5 separate regions of the Homo sapiens genome follow, and regions 1, 2, 4 and 5 are each linked to region 3. The links come from fine-mapping of genetic effects on gene expression. A gene starts in region 3. Each other region holds a variant in brackets. All regions are shown on one strand. Distances are from middle to middle. Region 1 overlaps TRPV3 (transient receptor potential cation channel subfamily V member 3). Region 2 overlaps P2RX1 (purinergic receptor P2X 1). Region 3 holds the start of TRPV3 (transient receptor potential cation channel subfamily V member 3). Region 4 overlaps TRPV3 (transient receptor potential cation channel subfamily V member 3). Region 5 overlaps TRPV3 (transient receptor potential cation channel subfamily V member 3).

Region 1 (4,117 bases), 30 kb after region 3:
CCCTTTGTCCCTGGTATTCACAACCCCCAGTGAGATGGGCGGAACAGCAAGCTTTGTGCGCATTCCACAGATAAAGACGGGGCCCAGGGGCCATGGCGCCAGGCGCAGAGGCAGGTCTCCACCCATTCTGGGCGGGTGTATCCCCTGGGCCCAGCCAGCCTCTGGCTGGTCCAGCCCTGTTGGCCTTAAGCCCCTGTTCTGCAGCTGATGGTTGTTCCTCCTCCTGTCCCAGATCCTGAAGTACATCCTCAGTCGTGAGATCAAGGAGAAGCGGCTCCGGAGCCTGTCCAGGAAGTTCACCGACTGGGCGTACGGACCCGTGTCATCCTCCCTCTACGACCTCACCAACGTGGACACCACCACGGACAACTCAGTGCTGGAAATCACTGTCTACAACACCAACATCGACGTGGGTCTCCTGCACAGGCGGGGAAGGGCAGGGAGAAGAGGGCTGGACCTCAGGCCAGGGGCTGAGAGGACGCTGGGAAGACCCAGTGCTGCCAGCTCCATCCCTCGGCATCTGCATACCCCACTCTGTTGCCTCAGTGAGCAGAGTCAGGCACAGAAAAGGCGAGGCCTGGGACAGATGCTGGGCCCGACTCTTCCTGATTGACCTTGGACTGTAGACCTGAGTGGTGGTGGCGGGGGCGGTGGGCGGGAGGTCTTCTGGACCGAGTATCCAGGGCTGTTTGGGTGTGGGTGTGGGTGATGGGGTGATTGGGGTTGATCCTTTCCATATTGTTTCTCTCCCACCCCCCGTTGGTGTATACGGCCAGGCTTAGAATTCTTTCTTCCCCAAAACCTGGTCCCAAATGAGGGTCAGAGAGTGCACTGAGGAGCAATCGGGGGGCCTTCCTGGAGGAGGCTAGAGGGGAGAGTTCGGTGCAACTGGAGGTGAAGAGAGGAGCAGCTATGAGAGGTGTTCAGCTCTTGGGGGCAGTGAGGCAGCAGGCTGGGTCTTCCTCCTTCATACTTTACTAAGAGTCATGCTTCCCAGAGTCCCCTTGCCTTGGGTCTTCCCAGACCCTCACAGCAGCCTGGTTGGTAGGGCAGGGATTGTTAGCAGTTTTATAGGTGAGGAGTCTGAGGCCCAGAGAGGGTCAGGGTCTGTCCTAAAGTCACACAGCAAAGGAGGAGCAAACTGGGGCTGGAACCCCTGCCACCACCTCCTGCCCGCTTCTATCCTCCACTTTCTGCTGTGCATCGGGTCCTCCTGCTGCAAGCCCGGGCTCCTGCGGCCTCTGACTGCTGCCCTAGTACCCTGGGGAGGAGCCTCAGGAGCCGGAAATCACCCTCCCAGCATTTCCAACCAGACCAGTCCATCGGGCATAATGATGGGCCCCTTCTGCAGCACTGACTCAGAGCTCCCGCAGGCCTTTAGAAAACGGTCCCTCCCTCTCTCCCTCATCTCCATGGTGACTGGTGGCATTCTACCCCTAGAACCGGCATGAGATGCTGACCCTGGAGCCGCTGCACACGCTGCTGCATATGAAGTGGAAGAAGTTTGCCAAGCACATGTTCTTTCTGTCCTTCTGCTTTTATTTCTTCTACAACATCACCCTGACCCTCGTCTCGTACTACCGCCCCCGGGAGGAGGAGGTACGTGGGCCCCTTGGAGGGGGAAAATGGGGCCGTCAGAGCTGGAGGGGCTTGGAGCTGCCCCACGTGCAGGTGGGAAAACTGAGGCCCAGAGAGACCAGGAGATTGGGCGGGGTCCCCCAGTTGTCCTTCACGCTTCCCAGGGAACTGAATATGTCTTCAGTGCTTAGCCTGGGCTAAGCCCCAGGTGCCGAGTCCCAAGGGCAGACCC[T/G]TGCTGGGAGGAAAGTTGGAGAATTCGGAGACTCAGGCCCTGCACAGGGTCTCTGTCTGTAAATATAGAACTAGCTGGGTGTTTCTGCTGTGAGGGCTGCAGGAAACGGGAGGAGGATAAGCTCTCCCTGCCTGCTGGGCTTCGGTTTCCCATGCGTCACGTGGGGCACAGAGCCTCGGCTTTATTTAACGGTGCTGTGAGGCCATGTTGAGTGCCTGGATATGGATGGGTTCCGGAAAGGCTATTGCAATGGAGTGTGAGGGTTGTTAGCACGGATTGGATGATATTCTTCGTTGTAGAGTTCTGGGTTTCCATCAAGGGTGAGGAGAGTTGGGGTCAGGGAGCTGCTCTTCCTTCTCTTGCCCTGTACAGAGATCAGGTTTCATGCTGGTCTCTGGCCCGGCTTGAGTGTTTCACCTGGGTTTTGGTCCCTCTAGAGTTGGTGCCAGCCCTGTCCTCCTTGCTTCCTATACTGACCACCCCTCTTCTTTCCCTGCAGGCCATCCCGCACCCCTTGGCCCTGACGCACAAGATGGGGTGGCTGCAGCTCCTAGGGAGGATGTTTGTGCTCATCTGGGCCATGTGCATCTCTGTGAAAGAGGTAAGTGGGCCACCCGGCCCTTCCAGACCGCCCCGCGAGGCAGGCAGGTGACAGCCTCCATCCCTCTCTGCTCTGCCATTACTGCTGGGGGGTTCTGGGGAGGCGTTTCCTTCCCAAGCCTTACCTTTCTGAGTTATAACATGGGAAAAAATGGATAAGGCTGGCCTATCCTACCTACTTCATCCATCTACTTCTCTATCCATCTGCCCAACTATCCGCCATTTATCTACCTTCCCAGCCACTCAGTGTCCCTTGTCCTCTTCCACCCCCATCCACCCATCCGATCACCTGCCCTCTTTCATGGACCCAGCCACTCATTCATCCATTCACATGTCCACTCATCCTTACCGACCATCCTTCTATCCTTTATCCAACCATCTTTCCATCTCTCCATCTGTCCATCCGTCCATCCATCCATCCATCCATCCATCCTTCCATCCATCCAATGAATCAACACATATAATCTGAGCACCTTCTATATATGTGTGGCCCTGGAGGAGGTGACAGGGTTGGGACGAGTTTGCCCTCTTTGAATTCACAGCCTGGTTGGGGACATAGCATAGGCATAAATATCAAGACTTTATGATAGACCGAAAAAGACCCTAAGCTGGGTTCAGATCAGTGTTCAGAGGAAGGGAGGTGACTTTTATCTGGGGACAGGGAATGGTAGAGATGCTTGAAGGCAGAGATGGCACTTACTCTGGTGGGGTAGGATTGGGCACGAGGACGATGAGGACAAGGTCATTACAGGGTGGATATGGGGAACAGCATGAGCAAAGGCTCGGAGGCTGGAACGCTAGGCTGGATGTGGGGAATGGAAGGCGGCTGTAGTGGTAGTACCGCTTTGCAGGTTCTGGGGTGAGGATGGGGTAAGGAGTGAGGGAGGTGAGAAGATTTGAGGGAGCGTTCACCTTCACCGTGGAGGTGCCTACGCCCCCCAGGCACAGGTCCCCTTTCAGATCCGCCACCTGGACTCTAGCTGGGCCTTTGTGCATTCAACCCTCACTGAGTCTTGGTCCTGGGGAAGCACCCTCTGCTCAGCTCCCCTGCTGAGGGCCATGAAGAGGGTGCACTGTTTCTTTCCTTCCTGGCCTTAGGGCATTGCCATCTTCCTGCTGAGACCCTCGGATCTGCAGTCCATCCTCTCGGATGCCTGGTTCCACTTTGTCTTGTAAGTAGGTCTGGCCCCTTGGTTATCGCCTCACAGGCAGGGTTGACGTCCTGTATGGTGGCTGCCGTGTCCGCCTCTTGAACAAATATCCTACTGTGCCACGGTGTCCCAGTCACTCTGCCATGGTTACACGCCAGGGGTCTCCTCTCTTCCTCCTAGTAGGAGACACGTAAATGCCCATGGAGAAGGTCAGAAAACTTCAGGGCTGTGGGGCCCAGTGGCTCACGCCTGTAATTCCAGCACTCTGGGAGGCTGAGATGGTGGTGATGGCCAACTCTACCCATCACAGAGCCCCACGTGGAAGGCAGCATGGAGTGGAGAAGGCGGCAACAGGCTTAGCAGTCCTGTTTACGTTGTTGTTTTTTTTTTTTAGTTGAGGTGGAGTTTTACTCTTGTTGCCCAGGCTGGAGTGCAGTGGCGTGACCTCGGCTCACTGCAACCTCCACCTCCCAGGTTCAAGCGATTCTCCTGCCTCAGCCTCCTGAGTAGCTGGGATTACAGACGTGCACCATCACACCTGGCTCCTTTTTGTATT
Region 2 (4,117 bases), 350 kb before region 3:
GGGACTAGGCTGAAGGGGCCATAAAAGGAGCCCAAGGGAGAGGCTGTGAAAGGGAGAGCAGGGGCGATGGCGAAGGCCTTTGAACACCAGGCTGAGGCGCCCGGATTTCTTCTGCAGGCAGAAGGGAGCCAAGACAGGATGTCTAGCAGGGGAGGGCCTGGAGCAGGCAGGGGTGGGCGTGGGGACCGGAGGCAGGACAGCTGTGAAGAGGCCGCAGGGATGGGAAGGGGGGACGGGGCGGGACCCAAGGCAGAGGCAGTGAGCACGGGTGACAGATGTCGTCACCCCGGCAGGCCTCACGCCTGGGGCGGCCCCTGCTCAGCTTCTGCCCATTGTTGCCGCAGCACGTAACACCTGGCACAGCCAGAGCTTCCGACGTCTCAAGAGAAGTGGGAAGTGAGATTTATGCATGAAAGAAACCGCTTGGTTTTTAGAGATTGGTGACGTATTCAAAAAAAAAGAAAGAAAGAAAGAAAGAAAAACAGACCGGGTGCCATGGTGCACGCCTGTAAACCCAGCACTTTGGGAGGCCAAAGTGAGCGGATCACTTCAGCTCAGGGGTCCAAGACCAGCCTGGCCAACACAGTGAGGCCCTGTATCTAAAAAAAAAAAAAAAAATTACCCAGGTGTGGTGGCGCGTGCCTGTAGTCAGTCCCAGCTACTCAGGAGGCTGAGGTGGGAGGATCACCTGAGCCTGGAAAGTTGAGGCTGCAGTGAGCCACGACTGCACCAGTGCACTCCAGCCTGGAGGACAGAGTGACACCCTGTCTCAAAAATAAATAAAGAACAATAAAAATAAAATAATTAAAAACACAAATGGTTGGCCTGAGATTCAATTCCACATTCAGTTAGTCATTCAACACACAGTGTTTGTTGAGTTCCTATTATGTGCCAAGCACTATTCTAGACACTAAAAATACAGAAGTGAACAAAACAAACCAAGATCCTGCACTCAAGGAACTTAACCCAGATGCCCCTCGACTTGTCTGCGGGTTGCATGGGGGCCTCAGGGTGGGCCCCAGTTCTGAGCACATTCCCTCCCAGGCCTGGAGTCTGCTCATGCCCCTCCCCAAGGCTGCTGCTCCCTGACAGCACACGCCCCATCTGGTCAACTCCTGCCTGTGGCCCATGGCCATACCCTGTGTCCCACCAGCCACCTGGCCGGTCCTCCCAACCCATGCCAGAGCTGCCCCCGCACCTGTCCCAGCTCCTCCAGTGTCTCAGCCTTCCCAAAACCAGCCCTTCTGGGTCCTTAGATGAAAGCCGAGGGAGGACCAGAAGGACTGGGGGATCCAATGAATGTGGGGGCATGATGGGGAGGGTGGCTGTGAGGATGCTGCCTGGGTGTTGAGCCTGGGTGATAGGGTGAGGACAGCACCATTCTCCATGACGAGGACACAGGGGAACAAGTTCTAAAGGGAGATGAAGAGTTCAGGTTGATCCAATTGAATTTCTGTCTGTATAGTGGTTAGTGCTTGGCACGAAATAGATTTCGTAGGCCGGGCACAGTGGCTCATGCCTGTAATCCCAGCACTTTGGGAGGCAGAGGTGGGTGGATCACCTGAGGTCAGGAGTTCAAGACCAGCCTGGCCAACATGGTGAAGCCCCGTCTATACTAAAAATACAAAAATTAGCCAGGCGTGTTGGTGTGCGCCTGTAATCCCAGCTCCTCAGGAGGCTGAGGCAGGAAAATCGCTTGAATCCGGGAGGCAGAGGTTGCAGTGAGCCTAGATCGCCTCATTGCACTCCAGTCTGGGGGACAGAGCGAGACTCCGTCTCAAAAAAAAAAAAAAAAAAAAAAGAATTTATCAGGACATCACCACATTGTAAATTGAGGAGCATCTGGACTTAGCGTGGTTTGACTTAGGATTTTTTGACTTTATGGTGGGTTTATTGGGGGTATTAAGAGCCTTTTGACTCAGGATGGGTTTATCAGGTTATAGCCCCATCGTCATTTGAGGAGCATCTGTGTAAGACCCTTGGGTGCGAGATTTTTGTTTGTTTTGTTCACTTTTGTGTTTGTTTTGTTCAACAGTGTTTGGCGCATGAATAGGGGCTGGATAAATACGTGTTTGTTTTTGTTTTTTAGTAGAGACAGCGTGTTACTATGTTGCCCAGGCTGGTCTCTAACTCCTGGCCTCAGGTGATCCTCCCCTCTCAGCCTCCCAAAGTGCTAGAATTGCAGGCCTGAGCCACCACACCCGGCTCATGTTTGTTGAATGATTGAATGTGTGGAATTGAATCTCAGGGGAGAGTGCAGTCTGGAGATAGAATTCTGGGGACACAGCGTGTCTGAGGCAGCTCACTCAGGGAATGGGGGCGGATCAACATTGAAAGAGGAATTTGTGAAGGAGGAACGGAGAACAGTGAAAATGGGAGGTTTTCATTATATGTGCCCACTGAGTGCCAGGCACTGTGCTAATTTCCTTAAGAACTCATAGAGGCCGGGCGCGGTGGCTCCCGCCTGTAATCCCAGCACCTTGGGAGGCCGAGGCGGGC[G/A]GATCACGAGGTCAGGAGTTCCAGACCAGCCTGACCAACATGGCGAAACCCTCTCTCTACTAAAAATAAAAAAAATTAGCCGGGCGTGGTGGGGCGCGCCCGTAGTCCCAGCTACTCGGGAGGTTGAGGTGGGAGAATTGCTTGAACCCGGGAGGTGGAGGTTGCAGTGAGCCAAGATCGTGCCACCGCACTCCAGCCTGGGCAACAGACTGAGACTCCATCTCAAAAAAAAAAGAACTCATAGAAGCTTCCCCCAAACACTTACCTAGATGCTTCTGTCTCCTGGGGCCCAGGCTGAGTTTGTAGCAGAGCCTCACTAAACACTTAATGAATAAGCAGCGCCTTTGAGGTAGGTGGCGTCACCTCTGTTTTATTGAGAAAACCAGGGCTCAGAGAGGTGTAGTCTCTAGCCTGAAGCCACACAGCTGGGGAGCAGCAGGGCTGGCACCTGACCCTCAGCCACTCCACCCTGTGGCCTCTTCCTTGAGAAGGCCATTGGAGAGCCCCAGGATGGGGGATTGCTGATGACGAGGTAGAAAGCATGGTGAGGGTTATTTCTGGAAGGGGAGAGGCTTCTGAAGATGCCTGTGTCTGACATCAGGCCCTCTTGGTTGTCTTCCCAGGGTGGTGACAATAAGGCCAGATCAAGGCATGGCTTTGGAGGAGCAGGCCTGGCACCATAGTCATTCTATTATTATTTTTTGTTTTTTTGAGACGGAGTCTCACTCTTGTCGCCTAGGCTGGGGTGCAGAGTGCAATCTTGGCTCACTGCAACCTCCGCCTCTGAGGTTCAAGTGAGTCTCTGCCTCAGCCTCCCAAGTAGCGGGATTACAGGTGCCCGCCACCACCATGCCCGGCTAGTTTTTGTATTTTTAGTAGAGTTGGGGTTTCACCATGTTGGCCAAGCTGGTCTTGAACTCCTGACCTCAGGTGATCCACCTGCCTTGGCCTCCCAAAGTGCTGAGATTACAGGCATGAGCCACCGCGCCCAGCCCATAGTCATTCTATTATCACCAGAGTTGAGGTCATGAATGCCAGATCTGACCGACCTTTCCCTTCGACCTCAAGACCGGCAGCTCCAAGGTGCATCAGCCCCGGCTTGTGGGCTCCAGGTGGCTCTGTTTCCCCTCTGTGCTCTGCCTCCTGGGAGACACGTCGAAGCCAGTGTTGCTCAGTGGAGGTGGGCTGAGTCCTGGGCTGGGTGCCTCAAGCATGGGGACACTTGAGACCGCCACTCCTGCAGGCCTCAGCTTCCCTGTCTCTTGGGAAAAGGTAGAAAGTTCGTTTTGGGCAAAGATAGAAACGTTGCTAAGCTGTTGGGGCTGAAGGTGCCGAGAGGGAGGTCAGTGGCCTGTCCTGCAGAGGGGCCCAGGACAAGGAGAAACTCCTCCTCCCCCCTGCATCAGCTCCTTCTGGCTTGGACACAGAACCAGAGGCCCTCCTGGAGGAAGGGGCCCAAGGAGGCCAGTGGGGGGATGGGCAATGCTCTTGCTCTCCCTGATGGGGCTGGAGGCAGCGTGACAGACTCAGGACACTGAGGATCAGAGGCCTTTGTCATGCCTCCACCTGTTGCTATCTGGGACCTGCAGGGGACAGCAGTGACCAAGCTTAGGCTTCG
Region 3 (4,098 bases):
CATTCTAAAGAGTATGAAGTGGTCATTTTATCTTTTATCTTTTTTTCTGTTTCTCTCTGTGTGTGTGTGTGTGTTTAATTTAAACTTAATAGCATTGACCAATGTGTTGTATGCATTTACACTATAGCATGTTATATTTTTGTTCTGATCATATTCCTTTTCACTTTTCCATTCTTTTTCTTTTTTCTTTCTTTCTTTTTTTTTTTTTTTTTTGGAAACGGAGTCTCGCTCTGTTGCCCAGGCTGTACAGTGGTGCAGTCTCGGCTCACTGCAACCTCTGCCTCCTAGGTTCAAGCAATTCTCCTGCCTCAGCCTCCCGAATAGCTGGGACTACAGTGTGCAGCACCTCACCCCGCTAATTTTGTATTTTTAGTAGAGACGGGGTTTCACCATGTTGTGGCCTCTTCCCTCCTTCCAAGTCCAGGCAGATGCTCCCTCTTTCCCGAACTCATCCCCTACACCCCATCACAGGGACTTCCTCCCGCCTTGGGGGTCTCAGCCCATTTTGTCCTGATGACCCACATGGTGGGTCATGGTTCCTGCCTGAGCCTGTGTCCCCTGTGGCCCACGAGGGTGGACACGGCCTTCTCCAGTTCTGAATCCCTCGTTGTCCACCTGCGCCCTTGCCACGGCCTCTCCCGTGGGCTCTCACCATGTGCTGGGTTAAATGGGGTTGAATATAGACCATCTAAGGGGCTGAAGCTGCTGCTTCTGTGTGTTTGGGGTGGGATTAGGATGGGCTCGGGCTTCCTAAGTAGTGACTGTGACTCCACTGGGTGACCTGGCTCCTGCTGCCTCTCATAGCAGAGCGGGGGTCCCCTTCTTCCTTGCTGGGCACAGGGCACACCTCTGGGTGGGAGACAGGGGCCTTTTTCACCAGCTCCCACCTGCCCTCTGAGAAAAGTTATGAACACGAGCAAAATGGAAGCACTGACATTTGGCAGCAGCTTCCTCCCCAGGCGTCTGAGCCGCCAGAGGCAAACAGGGAGGGCGCGGGGCTGGGTCGGGAGAGGGTGAGTAAGCTAGTGGCCGGAGGCCGTGCTCAACCCCAGATCGGGCTTTTCCGGTCGAGTTTCAGGCACAGTCATGAGATTTCAGATTGTGAGTGGGAACTTCAGGACCCCCTGACTTCAACGGCAGAAGCGGTCTCCTGCTTCACCCACACCCTCAAGTCTGGTCTGCCCCTTACCGGCCATAGGTCCTGCTCTCCCGTGGCCTAGAAGCCTCACCTGCCTCCTGCCTCCTCCCCAGGCCAGGCAGGTTGTGATGATGAGGGATTGAGAGGCTCACAGCTGGGGATTTCCCTGCCCATCAGGCGCCAGCTGCGGCCGCGTCAGCAGAGACTTCCTGCTCTGTCCCAGCTGTGTCTTGTCCACATCTCGCCCCGGGGAGCAGGTGTGCAGTTCCTGAGTGACGCGAGACACACACGGCCATCCTGACTCACTCCACCCACTTCACAGCTGCAGCCTGGGCCAGGAGAGAGGGCACCGATTCCTTCTATGACGCCCTGGCCTTGGAGAAGGGCAACCTGGGCAGTTGCTGGGAGAATACATTGAGATGACAAAAGCAATCATAGCTAAGAGCTGACATTGTTTATTGAGTTCTTGCCGTGCCCTGGGCCTTGTTCTGGCCCTTTCTACTTGTACTTGTTGAAGCCCCACGATAACCTTGCAAAGTGGGTTTATGAAGCACGTTTCACAGATGAGGAGACTGAGGCTCGGAGAAATGACCTGCTAAGGTCATTCAGCCAGGAAGGGGTGAGGCTGACACTAAGGGCCATGATGCGTGACTGCTGGTGGACAGCATTAAATGGGGACTTCCGTCCCCGAGAGACCTGATCCCAGGAACCGACTTTTGAGAACAAGTGCCGAGTCTTGGGGCTGGCCACCCTGAGGTCAACCAGGCTAGGCCTGGGCTGCGGTCTTCCCTCCCAGGGGACAGAGCAGAGCGCTTGACTCTTCACTAGGCCCTCCCACCTCTGTGATCTCTTTGGCTCTTCACGGCTCCCTTGGAAAGTAGATGTTATCATTCCCATTTCCTAGTTGGAAAAATAGGCCTGAGATGGGCAGTCCCTGCCCAGCATGGAATGCCAGAGAGGGAGGAGTTGGACCCACAACTTCGATCTTGGCACCTGCGGCCTCCCCTGCCTTTTCTCCGGTGGGGATGAGGCTGCTGTGTGGGTGTGGGGGTGACTCACACGGGCCACGTGGGTGGGCGGGTGCTGCAGCTGTGGCTGGTGGGCGTGGCCTGCCTGGCGCCGAGGGCAGGTGGCTCAGCCAGTTCTGCCTCTGACGCCTCATTCCAGCCATCCCTCTGCCTGCAATGAGAGCTTCCCGCCGCCTCAGCCACAGTCCCACCCGGGGGCCTTGGGCCCCAGACATGCGGTGATCTCAGGGCAAGGGTTGCCACGACCACCCAGAACCTCACCAGGTGAGTCTTCTGTGCACAAGGCAGCTGGTGATCTCCAAGGCCCCTGGGGAGCCCAGAGCGTGGCCCTCAGAGGTCCTCTGGGCCATGTCTGCCCTTGGCCAATAGGCCTTGGGAGGAGGGTTGGAAGGAGCTTGGGCCCCAGCCAGGGGCCCACTCTTGGCTGTAGGGAGGCACTCTTGGCTGCACTCTTGGCTGTAGGGATGTGTGAGAATATAGGTCCTTACAGACTCAGGAACATTCCCCTGAGGTTTGGGAATCCTGGGGAGGGACATCTCAATCTCACCACTGCTGGGGGCAGAGGAGAGGCTCCTGCCTCCCGAGGCTGACCCAGGGAGGTGGCTTTCTGGGGCAGGATTGTGATGGGAGTTCAGGATGGGAGGAGGTGGCCCCACCGTGGGAGACAGACGGGGCCCAGGCATCTCACAGGTGCTGAGTCAGCAGCTGTGGCTCCGCGGCCTGGTCTGTCGCCCGGGAAAGGCCATTTCAATCAGTGTCAGGGATTGGGAGAGAGAGGGAGGGCCAGGGCAACAAGAGAGTCCAGCAGGTGAGAACGTGGGGTTTACGGGGTGACTCAGGGAGCTAATGATAGCTGCTGCGGCCCTAGTCCAGAGTTCCCTGAGCCTCTCCTGCCCCAGAGGCCCAGGGCAGGCCACATTCTCGGGCCCAGAGAAGAGAGAGAGCAACCAGCTCTCAGGGCCACAGAGTCCTTGGGGACCATTCAGCCCACTTCTCAGAAAGGAAACCAGAGGCCCTGGGAGGGGCAAGAGACGTGCCCTTCTTCTGTCTCCTTCACGCTCGGTGCATCCCAGCCTTTTAGTCCACCAAAGGCCACGTGGGGATGGGGAAAGCCATAGAGGCTGCCCATCCTCATCAGGCCGTGACTGGACACGGGAGGGCCGGGTGCCCAGGAGTCCCTCTCTGTGGGCTACTCCACCTGCCTGGCCTCAAGGTTGCCTACGCTCCAGGGCCAAAGCTCTCCCTCGCCGATGCCTCCTCCATCCTGAGCCTGCTCCCTTTGAGTTGGAGGGCGGGGGACTCTCTCCAGCCTGATGACACCTGGCTCCGGAAACTTCCTCCAGGAAGCTTTCCTATTGGGGTAGGATCACCAGTGGCCCCAGCTCCACCCCACCCAGCTGGGTTCTTCTTACAGAAATCCGTCTTCCTGCCCCCACCTATGTGTCGCCAGGTGAGTCCCCTGAGGATGATTCAAGCTGAGAGTGGCACCCCCTGACCACACAGTCACCACCTGTCCACACAGCCCTTTCCCCGCCCATGTCATCCCTCTGTGGCCAGCTGGCCCCCTTCCCCGTCCCTATGGCCCCTGCAGCAGCCTCCTCCTGGCCCCTGGCTTCTGGTCTCCCCCACCCCCCAACGCAGCCCGCGCTCTCCTATGTAACCCAGAGCCTCTGCACCCAACTCCCAGCTGCCCCCAGGGGTCAGCCATAGCTCCTTTTTTATGTTTAATAAAAACTTTATTTTTTTTTTTTTTCATTTTTTTTGAGACGGAGTCTCGCTCTGTCGCCCAGGCTGGAGTGCAGTGGCACAATCTCGGCTCAATCCAACCTCTGCCTCCTGGATTCAAGTGATTCTCCTGCCTCAGCCTCCCGACTAGCTGGGACTACAGGCATGTACCACCATGCCCGGCTAATTTTTTGTATTTTAGTAGAG
Region 4 (4,117 bases), 22 kb after region 3:
ACTCACCATCACGCCCGCCTAATTTTTTGTATTTTTAGTAGAGACAGAGTTTCACCAGGTTAGCCAGGATGGTCTCGATCTCCTGACCTCGTGATCTGCCCGCCTCAGCCTCCCAAAGTGCTGGGATTACAGGTGTGAGCCACCGTGCCTGGCATGCCTTTTTTTTTTTTTTTTTTTTAAAAAGACAGAGTCTTGCTCTCTAGCCCAGGCTGGAGTACAGTGGCGCGATCTCTGCCTCCTGAGTTCAAGTGATTCTCCTGCTTCAACCTCCTGAGTAGCTGGGACTACAGGTGCCCGCCACCACACTTGGCTAATTTTTTTGTATTTTCAGTAGAGATGGGGTTTCTCCATGTGGGCCAGGCTGGTCTCGAACTCCTGACCTCAAGTGATCCACCCGCCTCGGCTTCCCAAAGTGCTGGGATTACAGGTGTGAGCTACCGCGCCCGGCCCTAAAACACATTGCCTTTTTATATATCTCAAATATTTTCCCCAGCCTATCACTTGTCTTTAACTTTCATTAGGATGCATTCGGAAATACAGAAATCTCCGAGGTAGGGGGATTGCTTGAGCCCAGGAATTCAAGACCAGCCTGGGCAACACAGCAAGATCCTGTCTCTACAAAAAATTTTAAAAATAAGCCGGGAGTGGTGGTGCAGGCCTGTAGTCCACACGTGTGTGTGTATATATGTACACAGAAATAGTTTTATTTACTTATCTAACATAAAATAGGACCATCACGTCTGTATTCTACAAGTTGCTTTGTTTGATTAACTGTATGTCTTAGAGCATTTCTTATGCCAAATATGAAAGTCTAGCTTTTGGGGGGCTGAGACAGGAGGATCGTTTGAGCCCAGGAGTTCAAGGTTGCAGTGAGCTATGCTCACGCCACTGCACTCCAGCCTGGGTGACACAGCAAGATCCTATGTCAAACATACAAACAAACAAACAAAAAACCAAAAACCCCCAAAACCAAAAACCTTTATGTAAGCAAATATGTCAGCCTTTTCTTTATGGTTTCTGCCTTTTGGATCCTGCTTAAGAAGGTCTTCCCTACCAAAAGGTTAGCTATAAACAAACTTTCTAATGTGTCTTAAAGCTTGGTTCTTTAATCCACCAAGACTATGTTTGTTTATGACACAGCGGCAGCTCTTTGGAAACTGCTGTTTCTGTTGGTGCATTTCGAGACCCTTCCCCCACTCCAGCCTTCTGGTCCCTTCCATCTGGAAGTTCTCTGGTCTCCAGCAGGCTTAGTGTCTCTCCCGCTACCCTTCTTTCCTCTTGCTGTGTCACCAGCGTATCATTCACCCACCGCCAGGGCTGAATACCTAGATCTTACCTGAGACACCCTTCTTCCCAGCCGGGCATCCTGAAGGCTCTTTCTCCAGAGGGTCTTTGGGCTTCCTCCTTTCTCCACCCTTCATGTGCCCTCCAACTCCCCTTAGTCCAGGCCTCATCATTTTTTTGTTTGTTTGTTTGTTTTTTGAGATGGAGTTTCACTCTTCTTGCCCAGGCTGGAGTGCAATGGACCAATCTCGGCTCACTGCAACCTCTGCCTCCTGGGTTCAAGCGATTCTCCTGCCTCAGCCTCCCAAGTAGCTGGGATTACAGGCATGCGCCCCCACGGCCGGCTAATTTTGTATTTTTAGTACAGACCATGTTTCACCATGTTGGTCAGGCTGCTCTCGAACTCCTGACCTCAGGTGATCCACCTGCTTTGGCCTCCCAGTGTGCTGGGATTACAGGCCTCATCATTTCCTTCACTGGTCTCGGCTGCTTCTAACGCATCCTCCACTTTTGCAGCCAGAGAGGTCTGAAAACACCCATGCACCGAGCCCTACATTCTCGTCCTGCCAGTTTCCTAATTCAAGGCCGTCTGTGACTCTGGCCCTTAGCACAAGCTCTGCCCTCTT[G/A]CCCTGGCTGATGAGCTGGCCCCACACCGCCTCGCTAAACTTCTGAGGTCCCAGGTTAGAGAGCTCTGGGAAGCCCCCTGACGCTCTCTGGCTGTGAAGGGCCCTTGCTCTGGGTACCGCAGCTCCTGCACCCCTCTGAATCGTAGCACCTCGTTCTCAGTGACACTGCGGGCTTCTTGAGGAAAATAATCGAGATTGCGTCTTGGGCACCCACTGACCCCCAGCGCCTGGGGCCGGAGCCCGGAGCAGGCGCTCCACAAACATTTCTTGGGTCCGCGCAGGCATGAAGGAAGCAAAGAACAAAGCTGGGATTCCTGGTAGCTGGCGACACAGACCAGGGTTCTGATCTCCCCGTGGGTTCGGGGAGGGTATGGAGGCCAGAGCGGGTGGGCAAGAGGCCCCTGTGCCCGGCGCTGAGGCTCCCGCGCGTCCCCGCCCGCTCCGCAGGGCAGACGGCGCTGAACATCGCCATCGAGCGGCGGCAGGGGGACATCGCAGCCCTGCTCATCGCCGCCGGCGCCGACGTCAACGCGCACGCCAAGGGGGCCTTCTTCAACCCCAAGTACCAACACGAAGGCTTCTACTTCGGTGGGTGCCGCCCCCGCCCGGTGCGGAGTCTGGGAGGAGGGAGGAGGGAGACGGGAGAGGAAGGGAGGGAAGGGGAAGGAGGGAAGAAGGGAGGAGGGGGGAAGAAAGAGGGAAGGAGGAAGGAAGTGAGGAGGGAGAGGGAGGAAGGGAGGGGGAAACAGGAAGGAGAGAGGAGGGAGAGGGAGGAGGGAGGAAGGAAGCAGGAAGGATGAGGGAGGAAGGAAGGGAGGAGGGAGAGGAAGGAAGGGAGGAGGGAGAAAGGAAGAGGGAAGCAGGAAGGAGGGAGGAAGGGAGGAGGGAGGAGGGAGAGGGAGGAGGAGTAAGGAGGGGGAGGGAGGGAGGAGGGAGGCAGGAGACAGAAGGGAGAAGGAGGAGGGAGAGGGAGGAAGGGAGGAGGAAGGAGGGCGGAGGGAGAGAAAGGAAGGAAGGAGGGAGGAAGGGAGGGGCCACCCCGCTTTGAGCTCCACCCACACTGTCCCTGCCTTAAGAAGCTCTGGTGCCCCAGAGGGGCAGGAGGGGAGGAGGCTGGGCATGTCCATCTGAGCAGGACACCAGGGTGGACCAGAGAAGGAGGGGCTGGGAGGAGGTGTTGGGGGAGGAGTCCATGTTCCGGTGGTGTCACCTGGTGGTCTTAGAAGCATTGTCCTGGGTAGCTCTCTGAGGGAACAGAGACCTGGGAGGGAGGCTGAGGAGGCAGCCCCATTTTACAGGCGAGGAGATGGCTCTGTGAAGGGAAAGGACTTGCCCCAGGGTAGCAGGGCATTGACTTAGGTGTCCTGGCCTCCAGCTCTGACCTCTGTGCCAGGGCCCAGTGCATCTCAGGACTGCAGACAGGGAGTCGAGAGTGAGAGGGCAGAACTCCCCTGCCTCACAAGTCACAGAGTCCAGAAGCAATTGGGGTTAGGATGCTCTAGGAAAAAAAAAAAAAATTGAAATGCATAATTTAGATATAGTGAAAGTCACCCGTGTTAGAGGACAGTTCTGTTCATTTTCACAGTGCGTCGAGTTGGTTCACCACCACTGCAGTCAGAACAGGGAACAAATGGCTCCGTCACACACAAAAATTTCTCTGTGTAACTTTGTTGCAGAGGAGACCCCTCCTGCCACCCAGTCTTGCCTGACTGATGATCACCCATCTGTTTTCTCTTCTGGGTGTTATTTTTTTTATTTTTATTTTTTTAATGGAGTCTCACTCTGTTGCCCAGGCTGCTGGAGTGCAGTGGTGCCATCTGGCTCACTGCAGCCTCTGCCTCCTGGGTTCAAGCGATTCTCATGCTGCAGCCTCCTGAGTAGCTGGGACTATCTTCTGGGTGGTTTTTTAATCAGCAGGACTAGCTAGTCTGTGCTCTGGGCAGCCCTGCGTGTCCAGGTGTGGGTGTCCTGGAAAACGGGGTCTTGTCCAGTTCATCGTGTGTCCCCATTGCCCTGCATAGGAGCTGGTTGGACCTGGTGTTGGGAAGCATTTGTTGGGTGGGGCGAGGAGAGGGGAGGCAGCTGAAGACCTGGTGTCCGGAGCTGGTCGTGTCCCAGGCTTGCTGTGTGACCTCATGTGAGTCACTTGCCTTATTTTTTCTTAACAAGCATTTATTGAGCACTTACTGTCTACATCAGGCACTGTT
Region 5 (4,117 bases), 43 kb after region 3:
GCAAACTCCAACCTCCAGGTTCAAGTGATTCTCCTGCCTCAGCCTCCCGAGTAGCTGGGATTATAGGCGCCTGACATACGCCTAGCTAATTTTTGTGTTTTTAGTAGAGACCGGCTTTTGCCATGTTGGCCAGGCTGCTCTCGAACTCCTGATCTCAGGTGATCCACCCGCCTTGGCCTCCCAAAGTGCTGGGATTACAGGCAAGAGCCAGTGCGCTCAGCCCTAATTTTTGTGTTTTTAGTAGAAACAGGGTTTCGCCATGTTGGCCAGGCTGGTCTCAAACTCCTGACCTCAGGTGATCCACGCACCTTGGCCTCCCAAAGTGCTGGGATTATAGGTGTGAGCCACCGTGCCCGGCCTGCTTTTTTGTCTTTGAATTCTGTAGATTAGCCAAACCCTTGCGATCTATGCATTAAGCATGAGGTGAGGGTGGAGTGGGCTCCCCGACAGTGTGTGTGCCCTTGTGTGTGCTTGTGAGTGTGGATGCCTACTCCTTAGACTTGCTTATGTCCCCAGAGAGCCAGGACCATCTTGGAGTTTGAGAAAATGTTACCAGAATGGCTGAGGAGCAGATTCCGGATGGGAGAGCTGTGCAAAGTGGCCGAGGATGATTTCCGACTGTGTTTGCGGTAACAAAGGGAGAAGGGCCCTGGGGTGGTGGTCTTTGGGGTGGGTAGAGAGGGGCAGGATGGTGACAGGATGTTAGAGAAACAGTGCCGCCACTTGCTAACCATAACCACAGCTACTGTCTCTTCCAGTGGCCTCCTTGGAAGAAGGAATTTGCTTATGGGGTTGCAGGCCCTGAGATGGGGGTTCCTGAGCTTCAGAAGAGAAAGAGAAGGAGACTGCCAACAGCGGCTCCCCTCTCTGCATTTTTCTTTCTTCTTTTATTTTTTTTTGAGACGGAATTTTGCTCTTGTTGCCCGGGCTGGAGTGCAATGGCGCAATCTTGGCTCATTGCAACCTCCGCCTCCCGGGTTCAAGTGATTCTCCTGCCTCAGCCTCCCGAGTAGCTGGGACTACAGGCATGCGCCACCACCCCTGGCTAATTTTGTATTTTTAGTAGAGGCAGAGTTTCACCATGTTGGTCAAGCTGGTCTCAAACTCCTGACCTCAGGTGATCCACCCACCTTGGCCTCCCAAAGTGCTGGGATTACAGGCATGAGCCACCGCACCCAGCCCCTCTCTCTGCTTTTTTGGAGGTGCCTCCATGGTCTCTCTGTGTTCGCTATCTGGTTTAGGGAAGATCTGCCTGCTGGGTACTCCTTTTCCTGCTGTTTACCCTGTGTGAGTTCCTGTGACCCCGGGTGACTTGAGGCCCCTTTTGCCCCTGGCAGATGGAAAGTGACGTGGCTACTTTGACAGATCTCTGGCTTTTTGCATTTTTTTTTTAAAGTCCTTACATATCCTATGACCACCTTTTCTTTTCTGTTTTTTTAAAAGGAGTTCCAGGCTGGAGTGCAGTGATGCGATCTCTGCTCACTGCAACCTCCGCCTCCCTGGTTGAAGCGATTCTCCTGCCTCAGCCTCCCCGGTAGCTGGGACTGCAGGCATATGCCACCACGCCTGGATAATTTTTGTATTTTTATTAGAGACGAGGTTTCATCACGTTGGCCAGGCTGGTCTTGAATTCCTGGCCTCAAGTGATCCACCCCCCTCGGCCTCCCAAAGTGCTGGGATTACAGGCGTGAGCCACGGTGCCCGGCCCCATGAACACCTTTTCTGATAAGCCCACCTCCTCCTACCCTGACCCAACTGCCTGAGCCTACAGACCACCTTCTCGGAGTATGACCATACCTTAACCCACTTCTCTGACTGAAACCGCGCCCCGTGGAAAGCATCATTTCTGACTGCAATCATTACCCTAACAAACAGTTGTGATGTTGCCACCCTCACTCTAGAGATGTTCTCTGGGTGTGAA[T/C]TGAAGTCACATCAATGCCTATGGTTGTATTCTAACACCTCAGACGCCACCCACTCTTGTTGGGGCACTGACCCTAACCACAGGCTCTTCGTGCTTCCTCAACCCCTGCTACACTTGGAGTTTAATCTTCACACCCTCGTGGCCCGGGCCCTCCCTCTGTCTGTCCCCGCTTCCCCTTGGGCTGTCACCAGTCAGGCACAGCAGCTGTTGTCTGAAGTTGGACCCTTTACACCTGTCTGGGCAACTTGCAGGATTTCCGAGTTCCCTACAATGGAAGGAGAACTGATTCTCTGAGGCCTGGGGACGTGGAGATGGGGATAGAGTTCAAACTCCAACAACTTTGGTGTGACCCCTCGGGTCAGGGGTGCTCCTGATCTCTAGGACAGACAGAAGGGGAGCTGTGTAGACACCAGGACGTCCCAAACGCAGGGCTATTTGTTAGTACTCAGTGAGGCACTGGTGAAATAGTAAGAATGATTATCACATTTGCAGGATCAATGAGGTGAAGTGGACTGAATGGAAGACGCACGTCTCCTTCCTTAACGAAGACCCGGGGCCTGTAAGACGAACAGGTACTGTCGCTGTGAGGTGACATGGTGTCCGCTCCTGTCTCAGACCATGTAACCTTGGGCAGATCAAGTCTAAGGGTCCTGACTTTCCCCATCTGTCAAATGGGAGGGTTGAATGGAAATGCTTCTTAGGTCTCTTCCAGCTCTGACTTTTAGAACCCTAGTTGGCACAACTTTTAAAATGGCGTAGCCCTAAGCCATAGAAACACATCATGCAGGCCGGGCGCGGTGGCTCGTGCCTGTAATCCCAGCACTTTGGGAGGACGAGTCGGGTGAATCACCTGAGGTCAGGAGTTTGAGACCAGCCTGGCCAACATGGTGACACCTTGTCTCTACTAAAGATACAAAAATTAGCCGAACGTGGTGGCAGGTGCCTATAATCCCAGCTACTCGAGAGGCTGAGTCAGGAGAATTGCTTGAACCTGGGAGGTGGAGGTTGCAGTGAGCTGAGATCACACCACTGCACTGCAGCCTGGGTGACAAGAGGGAAACTCCATCTCAAAAAAGAAAAAAAAGAAAAAGAAAAAAGAAACACACTATGCAGAGTGATATATTTCTAAAATATATATTTTTTTAAAAAGCAGATTTCAACAAAATCCAAGATTCTTCCAGGAACAACAGCAAAACCACTCTCAATGCATTTGAAGAAGTCGAGGAATTCCCGGAAACCTCGGTGTAGAAGCGGAACCCAGAGCTGGTGTGCGCGTGCGCTGTCTGGCGCTGCAGGCGGAGTCACCGACTCTGTGCAGAGAGGCTTTGAGGGATGGTGGAGTCCGGCTCTGCTGGCCTAGAAGCAGAGTGCACCCTCGTGCTCAGTGCTCAGTGGGTGTCTGAACTGAGGGGCAGTTGTCAATTTGTCTGAGTGGGAAACATCCTGGATTTTGTTACTTGGCAAACAGCTGGTGTAAACCTACAGCCAGCAGCAGTCTGGAGCCTGGGAGCCTCCTGAAGTCCCGGGTGAAGCCTCTGGTTTTACCAATTGCAGGTCGGCTTGGCTGGGAGAGATGGATGGCGGGAAAGGGGCAGCAGTCTTGAGGAGCAGGGAGAGGAGTCTTTCCTCCTGCCAGCTTCCCCCGTCAGCCCCAACCCCAGCCCACACATTGTACCATCTCTTCTGCTGTGACTGGGTTGCCTGAATTTGTGGGAGACCCGTGATCCCATCCCAGAGTGTGCGGGGGACGGAGGTAAGCTGGATATCCTGGGGGAGGAGGGGAATGCGCTCTGGAAACACCCTTCCGGAACCCTTCGGGGAAAAGGAGACCATCCTTGGAGTGAACGTCCCCTGACACCCCAAGGTTCAAACTGTCTCAAGCTGAGAGATGTTTTTAGTAGCAGAATTAACACAGGGTTTTAACTTGCAATACGGAAAAGACATTTCAGTTGAGAATGAAAATTACTACAATGAAGTTTGTGATTTTAAAAGTGGAGACAGACTGGGGGCTTTGGGGCTGGATGTAAGTATTATATATTTGGCCTCAGGGTGCCCAGAGCAAGACAAAAAGCTTTTCTTCACACACACAAAAGTCTGCATGAGACACTCCGGGCAAGTCCTGCTGGGCCGCCGCGATCTGGGTGAAAGGTCCTGGCTCTTTTCCTCGTCCTGACCTCACAGTAGCGCGTGCCTGTG

What was found. PIP is the estimated chance that this variant, and not a neighbour inherited with it, causes the effect.
Region 1: its variant is fine-mapped to the expression of TRPV3 in blood mononuclear cells (TOPMed, PIP above 0.99).
Region 2: its variant is fine-mapped to the expression of TRPV3 in breast (GTEx, PIP above 0.99).
Region 4: its variant is fine-mapped to the expression of TRPV3 in whole blood (TOPMed, PIP above 0.99).
Region 5: its variant is fine-mapped to the expression of TRPV3 in whole blood (TOPMed, PIP above 0.99). The same link has a PIP of 0.9 or more in NK cells and blood mononuclear cells.

What each region holds. Positions count from the first base shown.
Region 1 is chr17:3,526,319-3,530,435 of GRCh38, reverse strand. TRPV3 (transient receptor potential cation channel subfamily V member 3) reads left to right here. Exons shown (of 18, transcript NM_145068.4): 9 at 233-409; 10 at 1,441-1,599; 11 at 2,310-2,411; 12 at 3,509-3,582. Among named protein-coding and RNA genes, the nearest start is that of TRPV3, 29 kb to the left of the region's middle. RefSeq lists an enhancer at 1,911-2,831. The variant T/G (reference allele first, on the strand shown) is at 1,811.
Region 2 is chr17:3,907,655-3,911,771 of GRCh38, reverse strand. All of the region lies in intron 1 of P2RX1 (purinergic receptor P2X 1), which reads left to right. Among named protein-coding and RNA genes, the nearest start is that of P2RX1, 6.8 kb to the left of the region's middle. RefSeq lists enhancers at 49-118, 499-548. The variant G/A (reference allele first, on the strand shown) is at 2,500.
Region 3 is chr17:3,556,008-3,560,105 of GRCh38, reverse strand. It overlaps TRPV3 (transient receptor potential cation channel subfamily V member 3), which reads left to right and starts at 2,294. Exons shown (of 18, transcript NM_145068.4): 1 at 2,294-2,430. RefSeq lists enhancers at 786-845, 916-975, 463-1,277, 1,186-1,415, 1,446-1,495 and 2 more and a silencer at 3,276-3,335.
Region 4 is chr17:3,533,954-3,538,070 of GRCh38, reverse strand. TRPV3 (transient receptor potential cation channel subfamily V member 3) reads left to right here. Exons shown (of 18, transcript NM_145068.4): 7 at 2,358-2,498. Among named protein-coding and RNA genes, the nearest start is that of TRPV3, 22 kb to the left of the region's middle. RefSeq lists a silencer at 2,273-2,322. The variant G/A (reference allele first, on the strand shown) is at 1,911.
Region 5 is chr17:3,512,969-3,517,085 of GRCh38, reverse strand. It overlaps TRPV3 (transient receptor potential cation channel subfamily V member 3), which reads left to right. Exons shown (of 18, transcript NM_145068.4): 16 at 517-629; 17 at 2,414-2,493; 18 at 3,075-4,117. The coding sequence ends at 3,169. It also overlaps a transcript of SPATA22 not described here. Among named protein-coding and RNA genes, the nearest start is that of ASPA, 39 kb to the right of the region's middle. The variant T/C (reference allele first, on the strand shown) is at 1,922.